Linked DNA regions of Homo sapiens. The protein of the gene in region 1 interacts with the protein of each later gene in a biochemical or structural test. Each region holds a gene or a part of one and is shown in the gene's direction. Other genes may lie near its edges.

The links.
Region 2: the proteins of MYOZ1 (region 1) and FRMPD2 interact in a test that uses a peptide from one of them, tested with the Homo sapiens proteins (one large-scale study listed by IntAct).
Region 3: the proteins of MYOZ1 (region 1) and TJP1 interact in a test that uses a peptide from one of them, tested with the Homo sapiens proteins (one large-scale study listed by IntAct).
Region 4: the proteins of MYOZ1 (region 1) and LIMK2 interact in a test that uses a peptide from one of them, tested with the Homo sapiens proteins (one large-scale study listed by IntAct).

Annotation. Positions count from the first base shown.
Region 1 is NC_000010.11:73,634,975-73,638,474, reverse strand, and holds part of MYOZ1 (myozenin-1), read left to right. Parts: intron 1-552; coding exon 553-731; intron 732-3,500. UniProt on the Homo sapiens protein: Myozenins may serve as intracellular binding proteins involved in linking Z-disk proteins such as alpha-actinin, gamma-filamin, TCAP/telethonin, LDB3/ZASP and localizing calcineurin signaling to the sarcomere.
Region 2 is NC_000010.11:48,268,197-48,271,696, reverse strand, and holds part of FRMPD2 (FERM and PDZ domain-containing protein 2), read left to right. Parts: intron 1-3,500.
Region 3 is NC_000015.10:29,707,469-29,710,968, reverse strand, and holds part of TJP1 (tight junction protein 1), read left to right. Parts: coding exon 1-138; intron 139-1,932; coding exon 1,933-2,410; intron 2,411-3,500. UniProt on the Homo sapiens protein: TJP1, TJP2, and TJP3 are closely related scaffolding proteins that link tight junction (TJ) transmembrane proteins such as claudins, junctional adhesion molecules, and occludin to the actin cytoskeleton.
Region 4 is NC_000022.11:31,257,298-31,260,797, forward strand, and holds part of LIMK2 (LIM domain kinase 2), read left to right. Parts: intron 1-993; coding exon 994-1,129; intron 1,130-1,823; coding exon 1,824-1,933; intron 1,934-2,591; coding exon 2,592-2,780; intron 2,781-3,500. UniProt on the Homo sapiens protein: Serine/threonine-protein kinase that plays an essential role in the regulation of actin filament dynamics. Acts downstream of several Rho family GTPase signal transduction pathways.

The DNA of each region.
Region 1 (3,500 bases):
TGCAATCCCAGCGACCTGGGAGGCTGAGGCAGGAGAATTGCTTGAACCTGGGAGGCGGAGGCTGCAGTGAGCTGAGATCGCGCCATTCCACTCCAGCCTGGATGATAGAGCAGGACTCTGTCTCAAAAAAATGAAAAAAAAGAATAAAAAATAAAAACAAATATATATATATATATATATATGGCATCTGTATTTGGACTCCACACAAGATTGGCCTCTGGGTTTTTCCTGATGCCATGGTTTCTCCAATGGCCTCCATCTATGATGTTCCTTTACTCCTTTTGCTCTGTACCCCATGCCCGTACCTCTTTTACCCCATTGGCCTCTCCACTCTAGTATTCCCATTATCTCCACAGTGCACCCCAGTTCCCATGCATTCTCTCCAAGTCCCAGGAAATCAAAATCCCTCACAAACTAGACAGCATTTGTTCCCCTAAATGACCTCTGCCAGGACACACATACACACTTAGTTGTGGATGAGGTCTGCATTCTGAGCCCAGAAAACCCTACTTTCCTCTTTCCCTTGATTCTTCTTCTTTGCCTCCCTGAAAGGTGGACAGGAGAGCTCAGGCTTGAACCTGGGCAAAAAGATCAGTGTCCCAAGGGATGTGATGTTGGAGGAACTGTCGCTGCTTACCAACCGGGGCTCCAAGATGTTCAAACTGCGGCAGATGAGGGTGGAGAAGTTTATTTATGAGAACCACCCTGATGTTTTCTCTGACAGCTCAATGGTGAGTCTGGAACTTTATCACTATCTCAAAGCCTGGTGCCTGTTCTGACAGCTTGTTAGTAGGCCCTGAACCTCCAAAATGCAGTCAACATCCCCTCCCTGAAAATTTATAAATTTGTTAAACCCCCAGATATATTGAGCCCGCAACAGCTCCAGGGTGAGTTACAGCCCACCTCTGAAACCCAGTTTTCATCATAGAGCCACTGAAGGGTTGGAGAATACCACACCCTTAGGGAGAAAATTCCTTCCCAGTAAAGGTAAGTGTTAAAGATAGATTGCCAGATAAAACACAGGATGCCCAGTGGGGCAGTCCAGTCTTGTATTTTGAAGTTGAGATACACAATGAATAATTTTTTAGTGAAGTATGCTCCATGCAATATTTGGGACATAAAGATAAAAATTTAAAAAAATTTTAGAAAGAAGATAAGGCAGCCAGGCATGGTGGCTCACACCTGTAATCCCAGCACTTTGGGAGGCCGAGGCAGGTGGGTCACCTGAGGTCAGGAGTTTGAGACCAGCCTGGCCAACATGGTGAAACCCCCATCTCTACTAAAAATACAAAAAATTAGCTGGGCGTGGTCGTGGGTTCCTGTGATCCCAGGTACTCAGGAGGCTGAGGCAGGAGAATCACTTGAACCCAGGAGGTGGAGTTGCAGTGAGCCCAGATTGTGCCACTGCACTCCAGCCTGGGCAACAAGAGTGAAACTCTGTCTCAAAAAAAAAAAAAAAAGAAAGAAAAAAGAAAAAAGGAAGAAGATAAGGCAAAGAATAAAATTGAAATTTTAAAATACAGAATATACAATTAAATTTGAGTTTCAGATGCACAATGAATTCTTTTTTAAATATGTCCCATGCAATATTTGGGACATTAAAATAAAAATACAGGATGTCCACTTAAATTTGAATTTCAGATGCAAATGAATAATTTTTTTAGTATAAGTAAGTCCCAAGCAATATTTGGAGGCATATCTATACTAAAAAAGTATTTGGGTCAAGTGTGGTAGCTCACACCTGTAATCCCAGCACTTTGGGATGCCAAGGCAAGAGGACTGCTTGAGTCCAGGAGTTGGAGACCAGCCTGGGCAACATGGCAAGACTCTGTTTCTACAAAAAATTAAAAAGTTAGCTGGGTCTGGTGGCGCACACCTGTAATCCCAGCTACTCTGGAGGGTGAGGTGGGAGGATGGCTTGAGCCTGGAAGGTAGAGGATGCATGAACATGAGCCATGTTCACACCACTGCACTCCAGCCTGGGTGACAGAGAACCCATCTAAAAAAAAAAAATAAAAATTTGTTGTGCATCTGAAATTCAAATTTAAGTGGTATCCTATATTTGATTTGCTAAATCTGGCAACCCTAGAAAGAGTTAATTGAGTTTTTACAGCCACCTCCCATTTGAGCCATTCTTCCATTTAAAGGGTCAGTCTATTCCCTAAGAAGCCCCAGGTGTGGAGACTGAAACGGTCCTTCAAGATATATTCTAGTCAGGCTCCTTCTCCAAAGAAAGAGGAGACTGGAGAGGGGCCAGGCACAGGATGGTATAGCTGAGGAAGAAGGGCCTTCTCCATTTCCTTTCTTCCTCCTCCACCCTCTCTGAGTGGCTGGGGGAGAGTGGAAATAGATGCCTGCATGGGGCCGGGGGCAGAAGTGTCTGTCATTGGTCCTCATATAGGAGCAGAGTAAAAGTGCTGAGCTGCTCATATCTAACTTTAGGAGGCCAAAAGCACTCTTCTCTGCCTGGGTCTGGTTACACTGGGTGGAGCATTGGGGTGTACATGGTGGGATGGCCAGGAGAGCCTCCTGAAGAAGTTGGTGGGGTTATTTTTAGGCTTTGGGTTTGCATCTAATGTTGCCCTTTTGGCCACACTTCCCCCCACCTGCTACAGTGTCACTGTCACCAGTGAGGTCCAACAGGCACCAAGAGGAGAGAGGAAGAGAAAGAAGGAGAGAGAAGAGAGTTCTGACTGTTGGACAAGCTGAGGAAGGGAGGGGGCAGAATTTCTCTAGTCCTTGTAATTAAGACTGGGTGCTCCATGGCAACCCCATCCTCCCAAATTTTAGTTGGGGCTGGACACAGCTCATGCCTGTTATCTCAGCACTTTGGGAGGCTGAGGCAGATGGATCACTTGAGCCCAGGAGTTTGAGACCAGCCTGGGCACATGGCAAACCCTGTCTCTAGGAAAAAAAAAAATACAAAATTTAGCTGGGTGTGGTAGCATGCCAGTAGTCCCAGCTACTTGAGAGGCTGAGGTGGGAGGATTGCCTGAGCCAGGGAGGTGGAGGTTGCAGTGAGCCGAGATTGTGTCACTGCACTCCAACCTGGGTGACAGAGCCAGATTCTGTCTCAAAAAGCAAAAGAATTTTTTTTCATTTTTTTTTTTTAAAGCTGGGCAGGCGTGTTGGTCTTTTTTGACTTGTTAAGGATGAGAAAGGGGAGTGTGGAGAACACGCTGCCCTTACCCTAGGTATAACTGGAGGAAACGAGCCAAGGGAGTCCTACCTCTTAAGAAGAGTTTAATTCGGGCTGGGTGCGGTGGCTAACGCCTGTAATCCCGGCACTTTGGGAGGCCGAGGTGGGTGGATCATCTGAGGTCGGAGTTTGAGACCAGCCGGACCAACGTGCAGAAACCCCACCTCTACTAAAAATATATCAAATTAGCCGGGTGTGATGGTGCATGCCTGTAATCCCAGCTACTCGGGAGGCTGAGGCTGGGAATTGCTTGAACCTGGAAGGCTGAGGTTGCGGTGAGCCGAGATCGTGCCATCACACT
Region 2 (3,500 bases), about 25 Mb from region 1:
TCAGGCTTCCTTTTACTGGTCGCTGGCAGCTCTACTGTTAACTGCCCTCCCTTTTTTTTTCTTGCCTTGGCTGTAAGCCTCCTTATTCCTGTATTTGCTTGAGCTATCATAGCCCAACATTGTTGGAAATAGAGTAGGTAGTGAAGGGAGGCAGGAAGGAGATGTGTAGGATGGTGCACAGGAACCAGTTCCAGGAGGGCTGGTGCCAGGCAGGAGGCAGATCAAGGCTGAGCTGTCAGAACTCACTCTTCAATAGATTCAAGATGGGTTAAACAGTGTCTGGCTGGAGAGTAAATGTATTAGACATTTTAAAAAAGTGCCATCTAGGAATTTCTTTTGTTTCTTCTATCAGTATCATTTTTGTATGATGCCAGTCCAGAGTGCAGGCAGCATCTGAAGTATTCACTTGTTAATTTACTGAGTCATTCAGCCAGTGGGGGAAGAAGGAGCTCCAGATGCGAGTGTCCCCACAGAGCCTGCAGAAGGACAGGAGGCAAGGGGGTTGTGGTGCGTCTAAGGCTGGAAAAAGGCCATGGGGGAAAGAGGAAGCTGCTAGAGATCAGTCCAAAGCGGTGGGCCTGAGGTCCTGCAAATCTTGCTCAGGATCTGAGCTGATCCTTTGGAGAATAGAAAGTGGCTGAAAGTTTTCACGAGGTGTGACATGGTCAGATTTGTGTTTTAGGAAGAGGACTCTGCAAGACAGAGAATGGATCAGGGCAGGGGCAAGGTATGGTTGTAGGAAACCATTTTGTAGAATTTACATTTCAGTGGTCATTCAGGGGAGGGTGCTGGTGGCTTAGACCAGGTCAGTGGTGGTGGGGTTGGAGAGAAACAGGCGGATTTTAGAGAGATTTTGGAGATGGTGATTAACGGGCTGGGAAGTTGAGGGATGGGAAGGAGACAAAAATGTCGTCTGAATGTTTGGCTTGAGGGGTTAGGTGGTGGGAATGCCATTTGCTGTATTCAAATAAGAGAGGTTGAAAGAGGAGGAGGTGGGGGGAAGGTGAATTCAGCTCTCTACATCTAAGGGGGTTGTCTAAAGGACATCCTGGGATCACCAAGCAGGAGCTCAAGAAACGGGTCTGAGCTTAAGACATGGCTGTGGAGGGGATGGACTGATGGTTGGTAACTTTGGAGCATGTAGAGTGATTTGAAGAGGGAGCCAGGGCAGAGAGAAACCCAAAGACCACTGACATTTGGCATTGCCTTTATTCATTGTTACAAATAATACCATGGCAAATATCTTTGAATATACATCTTTGTCAATTATGTTCTTGGCATCAATTCCCAGAAGAGGAAGACCCTGATGGCAGGAATGGACATCCCTTGGCTTTTGATACAGATTGCCAAACTGCTTTACAAATCAGCTGTCGCAAATTGGCCACACATAAGTAAGGTCTCTGAGAGGAACAGTGTCATTGCCACCTCATGGGCACTGAGCGCTCATCATCGAAGCCCACTTGAGGGATGAAAATGGGCCTCGAGACCACGTCCACTAGCAGCTCCTTGGATTATAGGCAGGAGTGGACAGTTTTTCCATATTGTTTAATAAGGAATCACCGTTTCTTTTATGACTTTTCTTAGTCTCACTTTCTCAATTACCTACTGCTGTTGGGCCCATAAGATTTTTCTCTCTGATTCTTTGCACAGAAATAGTCACTTTCGGTTTGACCTTCATCCCTTATCCCAGCTGGCTGTATAGCTCTTTGTAGATATCACTGTGGGAAGCAACTTCCTGACTCAGGGCCTGAGGAGGGGTATGTGGTAAATAAAGCCCAGGAGAAGAGCTTGAGACCAGAGTCCTCTCCCTGAAACCACTCGGAGTGGGATTCTGGACAAGCCTTCACCCTCACACCTTGGCTGTCTCCCATTTCCCATCTGTGCTACAGCAGGTCTCCTGGGTCTGTCAAGTGTGAGTTAAGGACCCCCTCTTCACTAACCAGTATTTTTAATGGTCTGCTCTGGATGGATTAATTTGACTGAATGAAGCTGCTTCACTTCTAGAGGAAAATTTTTAAACAAAGCATTCACCCAGTGGGGTTTGTGACAGGGCAAGCCACTTCTCAACCTGCATTAGGCTGGGAACCCACGGACGGCCTGGCCCTGCCTGAGTCCCATCAGCCAGAGGTTTATCCCTCAATCATCACTGCAGGAGGAGAGAAGGCTATGCTCTCCGTGAAGGGGGAACTCTCAGGCCTGTTCAGCTTCTGCATCCCTCTGAAGGCTGCATTTCAGTGACGCTGGCCACCCTTGTACTAGGTACCACCTGCCCCACCAGCAACATCCACATGCAACACGCCTCTGTGCATCCTATTTCCTATATGCTTAGAAATGTTCCCTAGGAGGCAGAGAATTGGCATTGCTGGGACTTGGCAAATACATGTTCTCAATTTTGATAGATGGCTCTGAAAAATCTATACCAATTTAATTCCCATGTTAATGGGTGTTATGAGAGGGCCTGGTCTGCAGCCCCCACCTTGCTAACATCAAATATTTAAATTTTTGACCCTCTTGATAAATTCTCATTGCTGTTTTGTTTTCCCTGATTTACTAGAAACACAGCAAATCTTTTCAAATATTTATTGAGTAGTTGTATTTTTTCACCTGTTTATTTCTTAACTTTTAAATTAAAGAGTTGTTTTTTTCTAATTGATGAGTAAATAGTAACCCTTTTGCCATTATATATATTTTCTCCTAATCTGTTGCATATTTTTGTTTACATTTAATTTTCATATATGGTCAGATAAAAAGTTGCAAAGAAGTTGCAAAGAGCACAGAGAAGTCCCTATACTCTTCCTCCAGTGTCCCCCAGTGATTATATCTTACCTAACTACAGCACAATGGCAAACCCAGACATTTGACATTGGTACAATATGTGTGTAAAGTACTATGCCATTGTAATACTTGTGTAGATTTATGTAACCACTACCACAATCAAGATACAAAACTATTCTATCGCCACAAAGATCTCCCCCAGCTCCCATTCTACTCCCTACCACCCTGCTTCTACTATCTCTGAGATCAGTCTCACAAGCTGTGACCTTTTGAGACTGGTTTTTCTCATTCAGCCTAATGCCCTTGAGATCTAATCAAGCTGTTGCACGTATCAATAGTTTGCTCTTTATTGCTGAGTAGTATTCCATGGTATGAATATACCACAATTTGTTTAACCATTCACCAAATGAAAGACATTTTGACTTAACAGTTTTTGGCTATCACAAATAAAGCTGCTATTACAAATAAAACACACACGTTCACATGCAGCTTTGTGTGTGGATATTCATTTTTTTTCCTCTGGGATAAGTGCACAGAAGCACAATTGCTCAGTTGTATAGTAAGAGTATGTTTAGTTTTTCTCTTTTTTAAAAAGAAACTGACAAACTCTTTTCTGAAGTGGCTGTACCACTTACATTCCCACCATCAACTTAGAAGAGATCCAGTTTCTCTGTATCCTCATAAGCATTTGGTATTGTCACTTTATTTTTTTTTCCTGTCATATA
Region 3 (3,500 bases), on another chromosome or scaffold:
GATCATTTGGCGAGAAACGCTATGAACCCATCCAGGCCACTCCCCCTCCTCCTCCATTGCCCTCGCAGTATGCCCAGCCATCTCAGCCTGTCACCAGCGCGTCTCTCCACATACATTCTAAGGGAGCACATGGTGAAGGTAGGAAGTTCGGAAGTAGACATTTTAACACAGTAATGCTTATGAAGTAAAATTCTGGTGGTTTCTAGGCAAAATGGTTTTTACATTAAAAAATACATGCTTGAAACCTTTGGGCTGGGAACAGTAAAAACTAAGAATTTTGTTAAAAGTATGTCTCCTGTTTTTACAAGACCATTATTTTGGACAAGCCTTTTAGCTAAACAGATTTTAATCTATTTTATGCTAGTCTCTAAATCTTCTGGAAGTAGTGTTTGCCAGTATATGTAAAGATGGTTTGTAAAACCTACTATGTTTTATCTCACACACCCAAATAGAAAAGCCATAATGTTTCATATAAAATGTATCCCATACACCTTGACTTTTGCATTTACATACCAGGTAGATCACATATAGCTCCAGATTATTCATCTTAAGAGCTTTGTAACATTTTACCCTCAGCATATAACACAAAGTGGTTATCTCTTCTGCTGTGGACAGGCATTTTCCTAGCACAGACTTCTCTTATTATTCCCTTAGGAGGCACCTCCTTGGGCTTGTGAGTCTTCAAGCAGATGTGTTATAGTTCTGGATTGAGGCTATCTTTTATTAAGATTTTTTTTCACACATGCCCATGTTTACAGATAAAGACAGTTTTAATTCTTACTTTCCAGTCCTTATGCCTTTTCTCTTTTTTTTTTTCCTCTTTTTGAGACGAAGCCTTGCTCTCGCCCAGGCTACAGTGCAGTGGCGCAGTCTCAGCTCACTGCAACCTCTGCCTCTCGGGTTCAGGTGATTCTCCTGCCTCAGCCTCCTGAGTAGCTGGGACTATAGGCGCACACCACCACGCCCGGCTAATTTTTGTATTTTTTGTAGAGACAGGGTTTCATCATGTTAGCCAGGCTGGTCACGAACTCCTGACCTCAGGTGATCCGCCCACCTCGGCCTCTCAAGAGTGCTGGGATTACAGGCATGAGCCACCGCACCTAGCCTTCTTTCTTTTCTTGCTGATTGCACTGGCCAGGACCTCCAATAAACTCTGAAATGTAAGTGGTGAAATTGGACCTCTTTTGCTAGTTCCTGATTTTAAGGAGGAAGGACCTCATGTTTTATCCTTTAGAATGTTAGCTCTAGGATTTTCGTAGATGTCCTTTATCATGTTTAAGACATTCCCTATATTCAGAGTTTGCTGAAAGCAGTCAGATGTTTTTCCTGCATGTATTAAGATGACCATATGATTTTTCTTCTCGTACTGTGGAAAATTATATTACTATATTCATGAGGTATTTGGATTAATAATTCTCCTGTCTTGTAGTGTCCTTAATTATTTCACAGAGTTCAGTTGGTACTGTGTTACACTGTGGCTGGCAGTGCATAAAAAATCCTGTGGTTCCACTTTTTAACCAATGTTTGGCATCATCAGACTTTTCGGTTTTTCCATTCTAGTGGGTGTGAAATAGTATTTAATGCTTTTTGTTGGTTTTGTTTTACATTTTTCTAATTAATAGTGAGTATCCTTATTATATGATTATTGGGCATTCTAGTTTTCACAAAGACTAGTGCCAATCTTTGGAGGCCAGGAATCTTAGCAGCTGGACCCTGACTCCAGGGCAGCAGGGTATATATATTCATGGCACCACCTGTCCATGCTGCCCTCATCCCTCAGCATCACACCTAGCCTCCAGGGCTCAAGAGTCAGGCTCTGGCTGTGCGACCCACATTTGGGCCTCGACTCCAGCACCAGGACAAGTTAAGCTGGGACAGGGCTATTATAACTTTTTTCAGAAAGTTATTTAAATGCTTACGTTTGTTTTTCAGGTAATTCAGTGTCATTGGATTTTCAGAATTCCTTAGTGTCCAAACCAGACCCACCTCCATCTCAGAATAAGCCAGCAACTTTCAGACCACCAAACCGAGAAGATACTGCTCAGGCAGCTTTCTATCCCCAGAAAAGTTTTCCAGATAAAGCCCCAGTTAATGGAACTGAACAGACTCAGAAAACAGTCACTCCAGCATACAATCGATTCACACCAAAACCATATACAAGTTCTGCCCGACCATTTGAACGCAAGTTTGAAAGTCCTAAATTCAATCACAATCTTCTGCCAAGTGAAACTGCACATAAACCTGACTTGTCTTCAAAAACTCCCACTTCTCCAAAAACTCTTGTGAAATCGCACAGTTTGGCACAGCCTCCTGAGTTTGACAGTGGAGTTGAAACTTTCTCTATCCATGCAGAGAAGCCTAAATATCAAATAAATAATATCAGCACAGTGCCTAAAGCTATTCCTGTGAGGTAAGACTTATGCCTTTGCTCAAAGCATTGGCCCTGTGATTTTTCTCATGTGAGTTTGTTGTAGTTTATTTGACTTGGGACTTTAAAGTGATCTTTTTAACTCAACCTTTAAACTGAAGAGTGTTGTTGCAATGAATGCTGTTACATAGAAGGTCCTCCAGGAGGTACAAGATGTTGGTAAAATAATAAAGCTAACAGTCGTGTATGGTTGGTAGGTATTGTCATCATCCCTGTTTTACTAAGAACTGAGGTTGAGTGACAGTAAGCAGTTTGCCCAGGGTCACAGCTAGAGTGAGGTGAGCCTCAATTTAGCTGCTGGTCATCCGACCTCTGAGCCCATGCTTTTTTTTTTTTTTTTTTTTGAGACAAGAGTCTCCCTCTGTCGCCCAGGCTGGAGTGCAGTGGTGCGATCTTGGTTCACTGCAACCTCCACCCCCTGGGTTCAGGCAATTCTCCTGCCTCAGCCTCCTAAGTAGCTGGGACTACAGGTGTGTGCCACCACGCCTGGCTAAATTTTTTGTATTTTTAGTAGAGGTTTTCACCATGTTGGCCAGACTGGTTTTGAACTTCTGATCTCAAGTGATCCATCCGCCTCCACCTCCCAAAGTGTTAGGATTACAGGCGTGAGCCACTGCACCCAGCCAGGAGCCCATACTCTTAACCAGCCATGACCTTTTGTAACCTCCTGACCTACTGGTAAGGTGCATGTGGAGGACATCTAAAAACATTAAGTATCTATGTTCCTCATTCATTATTTGTTCCACAATGATGCTAAGAAGAAAAATAGAATAACCTCTGACTGTTTAAAGAGCAGCAGTTAGTGAGATGGCTGAGCAAATGAGACAAAGTGAGCCCACCTGGAGCCTCCCTGCAGCTCCTCTTTCCTGTCTTTCATTCCACGGCGATTGACCAGATGGATTCTGGCCATACATAAAAGCTCATCTCAGCCTCCTACAGCCAGTTCCATTTTCACGCCACCATAAAGCAGAAGCACTTGCAGGCAGGGAGAACCAAAGGTCAGGATGGCCACCTGAGTCTGCTTTCCAAGAGAAAGGATGGTTATGGCGGTCACTGCCTTCCTAGCTCTGCA
Region 4 (3,500 bases), on another chromosome or scaffold:
ATGTAGTTCAAAGAACACCTACATACCTTTCACATAGATTCATGATTTGTTAATGTTATGCCACTTTGTATATATCTCTCTCCCTCTATCTGTATACTTTTATTTATTTATTTTTGCTGAACTATTTCAGAGTAACTTAAAGGCATCTTGATTTTACCCTTGAACAGTTCAATATGTTTCTGCTAAGAATTCTCCTATATAAGTCAGATATCATTACATCTAAGAAAATTCACGGCAATTTTACAATATAATATTATAGTCCAAATCCATATTTCCTCAGTTGTTCCAAAAAATGTTCATGGCTGTTTCCTTTTTTAATCTAAATTTGAATCCAAGTTTGAGGCATTGTATTTGGTTGCTGTGTCTCTAGGGTTTTTAAAATCTGTGCCTTTTCTTCTCCCCATGACTTTTTAGAAGAGTCAAGACCGGTTATTCTTATAGAATAACCCACATTCTAGATTTGCCTGATTAGTTTTTTTATACTTAACGTATTTTTGGCAAGAACATTACATTGGTAACGCTGTTGGTGATGGGTCAGTTTTGAAGAGTGGAGATGATTAAACTGCTTTTGTTCATTGAAGTATCTGTCAAGACCAGAGATCCTTAACTGGTGCCATAAATAGGTTTCAGAGAATCCTTTATATATACACCCTGTCCCCCACCTAAATTATATACACATCTTCTTTATATATTCATTTTTCTAGGGGAGGCTTCTTGGCTTTTATCAAATTCTCAGAGGGCCCCAAGACCCAAAGAGGTTATGAAACACTAGTCTGTCCACTGAGGCAGGCAACACAGAGCTGGTTTCTGGGGCCTTGTTCAGTCTGAACCAGCTTCCCTTGGGGAGATAGCACAAGGCTGTAACTTTGCCCCATCTTGGCTTTGGATCAAAGAGGACTGTCCATTTTGTTGTCATACCTAGGAACCAGGGACAGCTTATGTGGCCTGGTTCCAGGGATCCAGGAGAATTTCAGTTCTTGTCTTGCCTTTCAGGTGTTCAGAATGCCAGGATTCCCTCACCAACTGGTACTATGAGAAGGATGGGAAGCTCTACTGCCCCAAGGACTACTGGGGGAAGTTTGGGGAGTTCTGTCATGGGTGCTCCCTGCTGATGACAGGGCCTTTTATGGTGAGTGAATCCCTTCATATCTGCCCCTCTTGGTCTTCAGAGTCCATTGACAGTGCTTCCAGTTCCCTGTGGCCTGTTAATCTTTTAGTCTTTCCATCAGCCAGGGCATCTCCCTTTATTTATTCATTCATTCAACTAGCAGGTATCAATTGAGCACCTACTAAGTGAAAGGTAAGATCCTTCCCTCAAAGACTTAATAGTTGAACGTTGGGAGTGGGAGGAGAGGCAGGCAGAGAGGAGACACAATATAGTTGGATAAGGACCTCCAAGGAGAGTGTTACAGGCTGAGAGGAGGATATACTTAGGTTGTCTTTAGGGAATCAGAAAAGGAGACTCTGGAATAGGCTGGCAGAGAGAGGGGCTACCTCCTATACCTGCTCTGGACAAACGACTTTAAGCATAGTGACAGACTTGCCAACCCTGTATTGGAAGAACTGATCTTTTTTAGTGGGGATGATTACTTCTGGGGATTTCTTCTCATAACTGAGACCAAAACAGTTTTGTGCAGTCTCAGAAATGACAGGAGGTACCAATCTGACACTTCCTTTGGAAGCTCTAGGGCAGAGAGTGAAAGAGTGGATTTTGACGGGGGCCTTGCTTGGAGGTCATTCACCCACCCCTGTCCTCACTCCAGCAACAGTGATAACTCACTTCCTTCCTCCCTTTGTACACCCTTCTCCCCACCTGCTCACAGGTGGCTGGGGAGTTCAAGTACCACCCAGAGTGCTTTGCCTGTATGAGCTGCAAGGTGATCATTGAGGATGGGGATGCATATGCACTGGTGCAGCATGCCACCCTCTACTGGTAAGATAGTGGTCCTTTGTCTATCCTCTCCCATATAAGAGTGGCTGGCGGGGAGGGACAGTGGCAGGGTGAGTTGGGCAGAAGGAGTGTTAGGGTAGTCAGAGCATTGGATTCTTACCACAGCAGTGCTCTTAACCAGCTCTTTAACTTGTAAGCAGAATGATTTACACATGTCTCTACCCTTTTTCCTTACCAACCTTGAAAATGTCTTCACTCTGCCCTGCAATCCTCCCAGTGGGAGGCACTCTTCAAGGACGATCCCAGAACATTAAAGTCAAAGACCCCTTAGAGCTCACCCTGTCCAACCACCTTGGTTGATAAAAGAAGTCAGCCTGGGGCCCATGGAATAGAATAGTACAAGGGCAAGGTTCTCATTGTGAGTCAAAGGTAGAGTGAAGAGAACCCAGACCATCTCACCCCAACCCAGGCCAGTGTTTTTCCAAATATACCACTTGCTGCAGATCTAGCTCAGCACCCCCAGTCCCAGCCCACCCTGAGAACCCAGGCTCCTCATTCTGAGCAGCCAGCTAGAATCATGACAAAGAGGGTGGTAGTGAGACTATGGGTACTGTTGCTTAAAGCCACATGGTGCAGTGGTTGCTGGGGGGCTTCTGTGTGGGACTCTAGCATCTTATTCCCCCCTGTGCCCTCTCCCCAGTGGGAAGTGCCACAATGAGGTGGTGCTGGCACCCATGTTTGAGAGACTCTCCACAGAGTCTGTTCAGGAGCAGCTGCCCTACTCTGTCACGCTCATCTCCATGCCGGCCACCACTGAAGGCAGGCGGGGCTTCTCCGTGTCCGTGGAGAGTGCCTGCTCCAACTACGCCACCACTGTGCAAGTGAAAGAGTAAGTATTTTGAGAACCCTTCAGCAGGGGTTCTTGAGCAGAGTCTGTAAATGGGCCTCAGAGGGCTTAGACCTCCAAAGTCTCATGCAGAACTCCCTTTATTCTCATCTCATATCTTTCTCCTGGACCCCACTATGCTGTAACCGTACCTGGGCCTTGGCACTTACTGTTCTCTCTGCCCAGGCTACTTCCTACCCGATACTTAAGGCAAGAATCACTCACCTTTCAGGTGTCAGGTTTCAGGTCATGTTTGCTCTTTGAAATCATCTGGCTTGATTATGTGTATTAGTTGTTTATCTTCTATCCCCTCCACTAGAATGTAAATTCCAGAAGAAACTTGCTGTCTTATTCAGTGCTGCATGCCCAGGGCTTGGAAGAGTACCTGGCATATAGTAGGAGTTGATTGATTATTATTTTGTCAGTCGAGAGAATGAATGGAGAAAATGTGGTCCATGGCCCAAAAGAAGTTAAGACCCTATCCTAGATTCAGGCCAGAGACCAGATGGAGAAAGAGTCTGTGTCTATCTAATACCAGTAATGTCGTACCTCTGGCCGCTTACCATGTAAATATTGATTGTGTATCTACCATGTGTTGGACACTAGGCTAGTGCTTGCACAGCAGGTGAAAGATACTAGAGTTTGGGAAGTCAGGAGGAGCTAAGGTCTGTTCTACAACCTTATTAGATGAAGAGGAGAGGGAATTGTGTTCAGGGCAGAGGG